Linked DNA regions of Homo sapiens: all the other regions are reported to be linked to region 2. The links are microRNA targets in miRTarBase. Many come from high-throughput screens and were not tested one by one. Region 2 holds a microRNA gene; each other region holds the end of a gene's coding sequence.
Evidence for each region. The annotated mature microRNA hsa-miR-4789-3p reads CACACAUAGCAGGUGUAUAUA and lies in region 2 at 1,104-1,124, shown strand. An mRNA with a match to its seed (bases 2 to 7 or 8) in the 3' UTR can be bound and repressed. Matches are read on the target gene's strand: a 7mer-m8 pairs with bases 2 to 8, a 7mer-A1 pairs with bases 2 to 7 and ends in A, and an 8mer does both.

Region 1: miRTarBase lists VAMP4 as a target of hsa-miR-4789-3p. Seed matches in the 3' UTR shown: 8mer at 398-405, 7mer-A1 at 915-921 and 8mer at 1,354-1,361.
Region 3: the mRNA of TMOD2 is a reported target of hsa-miR-4789-3p. Seed matches in the 3' UTR shown: 7mer-m8 at 2,507-2,513.

What each region holds. Positions count from the first base shown.
Region 1 is chr1:171,701,641-171,704,828 of GRCh38, reverse strand. VAMP4 (vesicle associated membrane protein 4) reads left to right here. Exons shown (of 8, transcript NM_003762.5): 8 at 295-3,188. The coding sequence ends at 323. Among named protein-coding and RNA genes, the nearest start is that of VAMP4, 39 kb to the left of the region's middle.
Region 2 is chr3:175,368,487-175,371,674 of GRCh38, forward strand. MIR4789 (microRNA 4789) reads left to right here and starts at 1,054; the gene lies at 1,054-1,135. All of the region lies in intron 5 of NAALADL2 (N-acetylated alpha-linked acidic dipeptidase like 2), which reads left to right.
Region 3 is chr15:51,808,128-51,811,315 of GRCh38, reverse strand. TMOD2 (tropomodulin 2) reads right to left here. Exons shown (of 10, transcript NM_014548.4): 10 at 1-2,896. The coding sequence ends at 2,862. Among named protein-coding and RNA genes, the nearest start is that of TMOD3, 20 kb to the left of the region's middle.

The DNA of each region.
Region 1 (3,188 bases), not on the chromosome of region 2:
TATATTGTGACTATTATCCCAGGTTATCAAAATTTTTAGTAATATTTTAACAGCAGATACAAGCTATGGCTATGCCATTATTTATTTAAGATGCCAATGTTAGACATTTAGGTTGTTTTATGATATTTTTTGCTTCTCCTTTCCCATTGATTATTTATTACCTCAGATAAAAGTTCAGTCAATCCTCATTACCCATTTCTAAAAGTAGACACAACTACATTTAGGAATATTGCTTCAAACATAGCATATATATCTGATGTTGATATATTGCTTTTTTCATGTTTTCTCTTACAGTTCTTATAGTCATGAAATACCGTACTTGATTTGATGACAGAGATCTTCATTAAACAAGATCTGGGACAGTAATAAAAGATTGCTGCATAATTTAAATGAAACCTATGTGTATATAACTTTCAAAACTTCTTTTTCAAGAAACTAAGAGGCAAGTATCACTTCAAATTGGAACGTTGAGAATGTCCAATTATCTTCTCCCTTTCTAACAAAATGTTCTTTTAATAATTATGTTTAAGGCAAAGAGAACTAGCCTCTATTTTTCCATATTTCAAGGATCTAATTTGAAACTAGATACTTGCCAGTTCATTATTTGTGTATATAAACACTGATTATAATATTTCATATTAATATTTTAATGGCATAAGGACTTGCATTATTGCATTAGGGAGCGGGTCATGCTGGGGGTCAGGAAGCCTGTGTAGAGTACCAAATTATATGCTGAAAGAGATGCATAACCATTCTGTCAATATTTGCAGAAATATAGTTCCTTTCATATTACAGTTGTTTTGCAAGCAATTTCCACATTTATAGGTGTAACAAAAGCTAAATGTTGTAAATGTTGTTGCCCTCAGGTATAACTAAAAACATTCCAGTAAATATATTTTTGACTGTGTAAGAGAATGTGTAGTAATTTTTTTGGCATTGGATTATGGAAATGGAAATTTTTAAACAGTGTGAAAAAACATGGTATGGCATCATAAAACTGGAGATAATAAAGTTATTGAAGAGTGTCATTGGAGTATTTGAAAATGACCAATATATAGCTGCCAGTCATGGTCCAGTCTGTTTTCTGTTAAACTCCAATAAAGAGAGACCAGTCAGTCCTAATGTGAGTAAATGAAATTTACAGGTAACTTACTTACTCCTTAATTTTATTTTAGTTAATAGCCTCTAACTTCCAACTATCTCATTTACCAAAAGTACAAAAAGTAGCAAAACCATCTATTAATACTTTGAATTTTATATCTTTGCATTTCCTGTTCATCCTTGAGGAGATGTATGTTGCACAATCAAATTTTGCATCAGCCAACAGTAATGAGTAGTAGAAAGTCAGGAACCTATGTGTATATATATATATATATATATATATATATATATATATATATATACACACAAACACACACACACACACACACACACACGCACACATATGATAATCAGTCAGTCGGTAACCAAATGCTAGAGAGTGACCATTAACCTAAGCCTGTTTTTATAATGAAAAAATGTGTTAACTTTAAAATATGCCAACCTCCTTGTGTCTTTTAAACAAGTCAGAGTGAAAATACATTGTCCCCTAAGGTGTGGGGAGAGGAAGCTTTATAATAAAATTAGTGATTCTGCAGAAACTTGTGCACTGGATATCTTGACAATATGAATATAAAACTCCCTAAATTAAAAATAGGGTTAATAGAAATTATCAGTATTTAAATAGGGAAAAATGATTTTATGTTTATTTTATTTAGGTTTTATTTCTTTGGTCATCTTAATGCAAAATGAATAAAGCATAGAATCTGGGTTTGGTGTTTTTTTGTCTGTTTTTAAAATTCTACAGGATTATTACTAGGAGGCAAAAAATGCTGTTTAGAATGGAAAAAATTTGAAGAGAGAAAGCAGACTGAGACACTCAAGACACCTGCAAGTTATCTAAGAAGATCTAAATAGAATTACTAAATTTTATAGTTTGCTTAGAGCATTTAGAAGGAGATAAAGGTCTTACATACTATAGTGTATATTGTCTTTGGTCTCTATGCTCTTTGTAAATGTCAATTAATATAAACAGCATCTGAACAGCTAATAAATCTTTTAAGTTAAGATACCCAGAAAAATGAGCATTTTTAGAATTTCAGTAGCTAATAATTCAGGAATGGAAATATTTTAACTGAATGGACAGAATCAGTCCTAACATTTGTATGTATGTCCTTTATTTGAATTGGAACTAGGCTCATAAGTGGTTAATTTTCCATTAGTTGATGTAGAAATCTGGTTTCTCCATAATATCTACAAGTGAAGATGAAGATTACTTCTCAAAAAGTATCCATATTTCCAGTGTTCCTTTTAATAAAATATGCCACTTTTAAATAAATAATTACAAAATGTAAAATTATAAAATTTTTAAATTTAAATAATAAGTAACAGTAAAATTTTTTGACAATATATATGTCACTGTCTTTGTAATTTAAACATATTGCTGCCTGGGATATGGGTAACAGAATTATCACTCATGGAACTTTGTAGTAGTGATGGCTTGGTTTGTAATTCATCATTTCATCTTTCTTGGTCTTGATTAATCCTGAAATCCTTAAAATGGCTGGCATGGTTATGACTTTATTGTGGTAACCTTGGAGATATAAGCCCTCTTACGATCAAAAACAGAAGAAAAAAATATATTGTTCAAACTGATGCCAGGCCTACCTTTATTCCCTCCCTTAATTACTTTTTTTCTCATTCAGCTCAGATCATCCTGCACTTGAAAAATGAAGTTTTACCACCATCAAAACTATCATTATTTAACAACAAGTGAAGATCAACAGAAAAATTCAAGTAGCTTTGCAAATACTAGTTGATACTCAGTGAAATCACGTCACTATTTTGATGCCTGAATCCATACCTTTGTGATTTATGTTTAATTACAGAAGCCTATTGCCTTGCAGCAATTTTGTTGTTATAATACTGATTAATTGGTTACTCCTTCTTATTATAACTCAGTAATACCTGTGGTCATTTGGTTCCTCTATCCTGACAAAGTTCACTGGAAATTGCCCTCAGATTTTATAAACTGGGGGATTTCTTAATTAGATAAAAGTTCATTACTGAAGATGGAATATTATATAAGATGGAGGAAGGGTAATTAATAGACATGAGATATAGAAATACTTTGTTAGCCCTGCTATAGA
Region 2 (3,188 bases):
AAAATAGTTACATTTTACAAACGAATCTCTAACACATTTTGGTATCTTTTTTTATACTTTGAAAGGACTGTAGCAGGTGTGTGTGAGTGTGTGTGTGTGTGTGTGTGTGTTTATAGCCAGTATGTATATATGTAGCAAATACGTTCATGTGCCATTTAATAATGGAGATGCTTTCTGAGAAATGCATCATTAGGTGACTTCATTGTTGAGAGAACATCATAGAGTGCACATAACACAAACACATTGTGTAGCCTCCTAAACAACTAGGTTATGTCGTATAGCTTATTACTTCTAAGCTACAAACCTGCATAGCATGTTATTGTACTGAACACTGTAGGCAATTACAATGCAGTGGTATTTGTATATCTAAACATATCTAAACACAGAAAAGGTACAGCGAAATATGATATAAAAGATTAAAAAAAATTGCCACCCCTGTATAGGGCACTTTTCATGGAACTTGTGGGAGTAGAAGTTGCTCTGGGTGGATCTGTGAATGAGCAGTGAGCAAATGTGAAGGCCTAAGACGTTACTATGCATTACTGTAGGCTTTATAAACACTGTACACTTAGGTTACACTAAATTTGTTTTAAAAATTAAGTAATTGCACTAATGTCACAATGAGAACAATGCCACTAGAGTTTTTCAGCTCCACTATAATCTATGGAACCACCCTCATGTATGTGATTTGTTCTTGAGCAAAATGTCATCATGCAGCACCTGACTGTATATATATGTAGCAAGTATGTGTGTGCCTGTGTGCGCGTGTGTATATATAAATGTTACATTTACATACACCTGATATGTGCATGTGTAATTATATATGTAACAAGTATGTGTGTGCCTGTGTGCGTGTGTGTACATATACATGTTACATTTACATACACCTGATATGTGCATGTATACATATATAGGTAACAAGTATGTGTGTGCCTGTGTGCGTGTGTGTACATATACATGTTACATTTACATACACCTGATATGTGCATGTATACATATATAGGTAACAAGTATGTGTGTGCCTGTGTGCGTGTGTGTGTATGTGTATATATACATGCTACGTATGTATACACCTGATATGTGTATGTGTAAATACATATCCACACACATAGCAGGTGTATATATAGGTAGCCTGTGTGTGTGTGAGTGCATGTGTGTGTATGTGTAGCAGGGGTTTTGTGTTAGAACCAAGAGCTTGGAACTGGTACAATGAAAATATTTTGCCTGAAAGATATGCTTAGTAAAAGTCCCAAGTTTCACACATTTTTGAGGCTCAAAGTGAAGAACTCAAAGTGAATTATTAGGTAATCATATCTACTTCTTCCTAAACCCTTCATCTGATTGTGTGCTAAAATTTAATACTAACTGATCTTTCCATCTCCATAAAATTCTTTGAGATAACAAAATCCTACATTCCGGTTTCTGAAGGATGGTATTCTGCAAATGTGAAAGTTTCCCTTAACCTCCAAAAAATAATTGGGTTAATCCAGCTACCACAAGTGTGAAATTGAGAAGCTGCTTGCTAAGATTGAATTTAATATTGTCACATGTCATCTGAGAGCTGCTTGTCTGATCATGTTGCCACTGGACAAAGTAAGCCTTACTACAAAGGATAAAAGAATGATTATTTCAATATCCAGTCATAGTTCATCATCAAACTCTGAGTAAAATGGAGAAAAAAAGACGTTTTATCTTATATGACTCTATGCATTTCTCTGGGAAGTCATTTATCTGGTTGCTATCCAGGAGAGCAAAGATAATGGGAAAAATCTTCCACTATTCTCAACTATAATTTTAAATATCAAATTTTAATAAAATAGGTTTTGGTTATTTCTTTTAAAAGCCCTCAATATAAGAAAATGAAATGTTAGAAACTTATTTTATAAAATATATTTGTGAACCATAAAACCCCATATAAAATGGAAATTATTATCACCATTAACTACTGATGCTTCTAATCTTATTCTGTAATGGTTAAAAAATGACTAGAATTTAGAGTTACTGCCAATATATGGGGGGGGGAGGGATTTTATAAAAATAGCTTTATTCATTTGCATGTTAAGCAAGAGTGTGATTACTGATGGCCGTAAGAGTCACTTGCTGCTTTAAGCTCTGCTCTGCTGCTGACTCTACATGTGTAGCTTTGAGAGGTCCTTTAGCCCCTCCAGCTTTCCACATAGGCAGGATGTGGCTATTGTACTTGATGATATGCCAAACATGCTTCTGATTCCAACATTCGATGGTTCTGTGATATTTCTACCTTATTACAAAAGACATTCACTTTAAAAGTATAAACACCGTAGTAACTTTTTTTCTTTCATTGTTTTCAATAAAAGGGTAATGGAAGTAAACTGACAAGTTTAGGAGGCTTTCAGAGCATAAAGGAGAAAGGCTGGCAGCTCTTGAGAACCTCTTTGCTTTCAGCTGAGAGCAAGTAGAGAATGCTTGCTCTCTGGCCCTGAATGTCATAACATTATGTTCAGAATCATTGAAATGTCTGACAACACTGTTGATTAAAAATGAGAATCATTAGGCCATGTCTGCCGTTATAGGATGAAGGGTAGTTTGAACAGTATGGAAAAAAACTATCCCAAAAGGATGATTTGTCTTAGACAATATTACCAAAATTTCAAATTATACTATGTATAGTAATTTGCAGTAATTCACTTTTTTTTTATATTTAGCTTCATCTTAAAAGTTCTCCTTCATTGGTAATGCTTTGAAAAATGCTGGATTTAGAATTATGAAGAGACTATCAACTAATATTATGGATGATATTATTATTATTATTATTTTTTGAGACGGAGTACTCGCTCTTTCGCCCAGGCCGGACTGCAGTGGCGCTATCTCGGCTCACTGCAAGCTCCGCCCCCCGGGTTCTCGCCGTTCTCCTGCCTCAGCCTCCTGAGTAGCTGGGATTACAGGCGCCCGCCACCGCGCCCGGCTAATTTTTTGGATTTTTAGTAGAGATGGGGTTTCACCGTGTTAGTCAAGATATGGATAATATTATTTAGAAACCATTCTGTGTGCTACAAAAGTCCTTTGAGAATGATATGAGCTGGGCACGACGGCTCATGCTTGTAATCCCAGCTCTTTGGGAGGCCAAGGCGGGTGGATCACCTGAGGTCAGGAGATCAAGAGTAGCCTGGCCAAGATGGCGAAATCCCGTCTCTACTAAAAATACAAAA
Region 3 (3,188 bases), not on the chromosome of region 2:
ACAAATACATAGAAAAATATTTTATATACATTATGCCCCATCACAATGGATAGCAAAGGATTAACTGTGCCCATGATCATGAAAGAGCTACCACTTCCACACTTTGGGCAGAGAGGGAGATGAAGTCCTAGGCTAATTAAATGATGGATAGGCTCCTCAAGTGTATGTTTTTCTAAGGGTTATCATCAATATGTGCACACTCATGGAAATGCCACCTTTCAAGCCACTTTAAAAACACAGGTAATAAGAAAACAAACTGATTAGTAAAAAACATTTGATTTCATAGACTCTGTTGCATGCAACCCAACTATTTCATAAGGTAAAAACAGTGCTATATTTTTGATAATGTCCCATTATCTTGCTTTAATACTATCAACAACTGCTTGTACAAAAGAAACAGCCATGATTGAATTCTGATTCTTTTTTTCTTGCTTTCTGCCAGAGTTTGCCAAGAACTGCTTTAGCCCCCAGCCCACAGCACTGTGGGGCTGCAAGGAATGCTCTATAGGGTCCAGGATTTTAAGAGTCAAGGCAAGAATGAGAGTAAGAAAAAAAAAAAAAAAAAGGAAAAAGGCTTACTTGGAGAGGCAGGTCAGGGACTCAGCACTTAAACAGGTTTGTAACAAATCCAAAGAGGAGAAAAGACATCTAAGAGAAATGTTCTTCCCTTCGGCAACATGATAAGCGAAACATATGTATAAAAAAATGTATAATTTCACCCAGTGGTGTGCTGATGAATGTTTATCAACCAGCAATCTGGAGAGGGAGAAAACCCCAATTTCTTACATATTGCTAATTTCTGTGGTGTAAATATTTCTACCATGGCCAATTTCAAGCCACTGTAGTAACAAGAAGGTAGTGAACATGGAGTTGAGAGGATACGTTCAGTAGCATACTGTTTGGTAATATTTCTACATACATACCTACTAGATGTAAATAATCTAAGAGGTTAGAAAATAGTAAAATGTAAGATTTTTGAGTACAGTATTTGTTACTTCTGTCCTTAATATAATTCATTCAGTTGTAAGTGCACATCATTTAATTTTAAATAATGGCTGTATTGAACAACCAGTTTGCAAAATTCTTGAAAATATAACAGTTGGCAAGCCTGTACAAGTTGACTCCAACACATCACACCTAAATGGGTGAAAGGGAAGGAAAAATCAGACTGAAAACCATAAACATTATTTACTATGTTTTTTAAATAGATAAGGAGATGAAGCCATAAACTAATTAAAGGATTTTCAGGGGCCAAAGGTGTTAGAATATTCTGCTTATGGTGTTCTCAAACATTAAAAAAATTTCAAGATAATGAGATGTTTCAAAGGACTTCAGAGACACAGATGTGGGTACTTACAATACAGGTAAATGTTCAATTTTACAAGGGCTATCTTAAACAGATTCCATGTGTTTTACAAGCTAAATAGAATAATATATTAATTATTTTCCTATTCACTTGTTTTATTGCTACTAGGCAACTCAGGAACACTCAGCTACTAAACAAATTCTGGAATTTGTTTAGTAACAAATTACAGAGAAAAGAGGAAAAAAAAGACAATGAATTGGAAGAAAGGGAGGGGAGAAAGGAGGAATAGAGGGTGAGTTGCCTTGGGCAGTGTCAGAATGTCACCAATCACAACCTCAGGCACTGACAGTTATCAGAGTTGTGAGCTTGAGCCAAAGGCTGCAGTCACCTGCTTCATTAGTTTAGCACTGCATTTTTACACCACTACATTGAAAGATTAATGCATACTACAATGCAACCATCTCACTTGTACTTTCACAGGCTTTGTCCTTGAGATGACATGCATCTGGATAAATAATTCACATTTTTCTCCTGACGTTTGCAAATGTCTGGATGGATCATATACTGTGGACAAAAATCTAGATAATTAACCTGAATGTTTATATTTAATCCAGTGATCTTGTTACACTAAAGACAAAGCAATAAATGCTTCTAAAATTTGCCAAAAAATGCAATCATCTGCATCAGACAGCCTTGATTAAGATACAATATTGTTGTTTTATTCAGGAATGTACTGTTTTAAAAGCTTCTCTCTTACTAAAATTTAGAAAATTTCTATCATGTTTGAAAAACTTTAAAACAGCTTTGTAAATAGCCTTTAAAGTCATGTTAAAGATTCAATTTATGTTGAATAGTCAGTAAAAGTAGGTGTGTAATTCATTTTGCTACCTGTGAGTCTGGCTTGATGCTACATTTGTGGGTTAATAAATAGACTTCTTTGCTACTGTTTTAAAGTGTCATAATGTTGTCTTGCTTTATGAAGATGACACTACTGATCTCCAATCAACAGGGCATGTGCATTTACTGATTTTTCTGGAACTAAGAGAGAATTTGTGCTAAATTGGTCACATTTTCACATGCAGTGAAAGATTGGCAATACTAACTTCTTATGTGGTCAGTAGAACACTTCTGATGTATTTAGCCTAACTCAAAGCTATGCATGTAAACAGAGATAGGCCTCTATCATAATCACAGTTACAAACACATATTATACACTAAATTCCTTTCAGTGATTAAAAAAACAAGTTCATGTAAGAAAGCAAGACAACCCAATAAGAAAGTGGTTAAATTCATTTTCCATGTCGTCACTCTCTAAAATCTGCATCGGTCCATTTGTCAAGTTGCCAGAAGTGCCCATGAGCAAATAAAACAATTGCATATATTACAAAATCCAAGATAAATAAGTAGTGCTAAAAAAGAATAACAATTAAATTATTAGTTATGTGGTTAACGGAAATGAACGAACTTTGATAAAATGGTCCTGATGGGGAAGAAGAAGAGTTTTTGTTTTTCAATGGCCATACCACAGTGAAACTTCACTTCTCCTCAAGGAAGTTTACCTTCGGTCTGCTTCAACTCTCTTCTTACGAACTAGGTAAGAAAGAAAGGAACAAAAAGACAAATTGAAGGGATATTCCTTAAATTCCAGATAAACAACATTAATCACATAAGATGACAATCTCACACACTTGAGGATACAGTTATCTTAAATTTTAATACTTAACCATGACAATCAATGGAAATGATAAATTCATCCAGTGTCTGGTGGAATTTACATTTAAATACATATATGTCTGATAGTTGGGTACTCGAGTGTTAGAACCTTCGAATTTCTATGGGATAGAAATTCCAGAAGAGACCCGTGAAACAGTGCACTTTGACT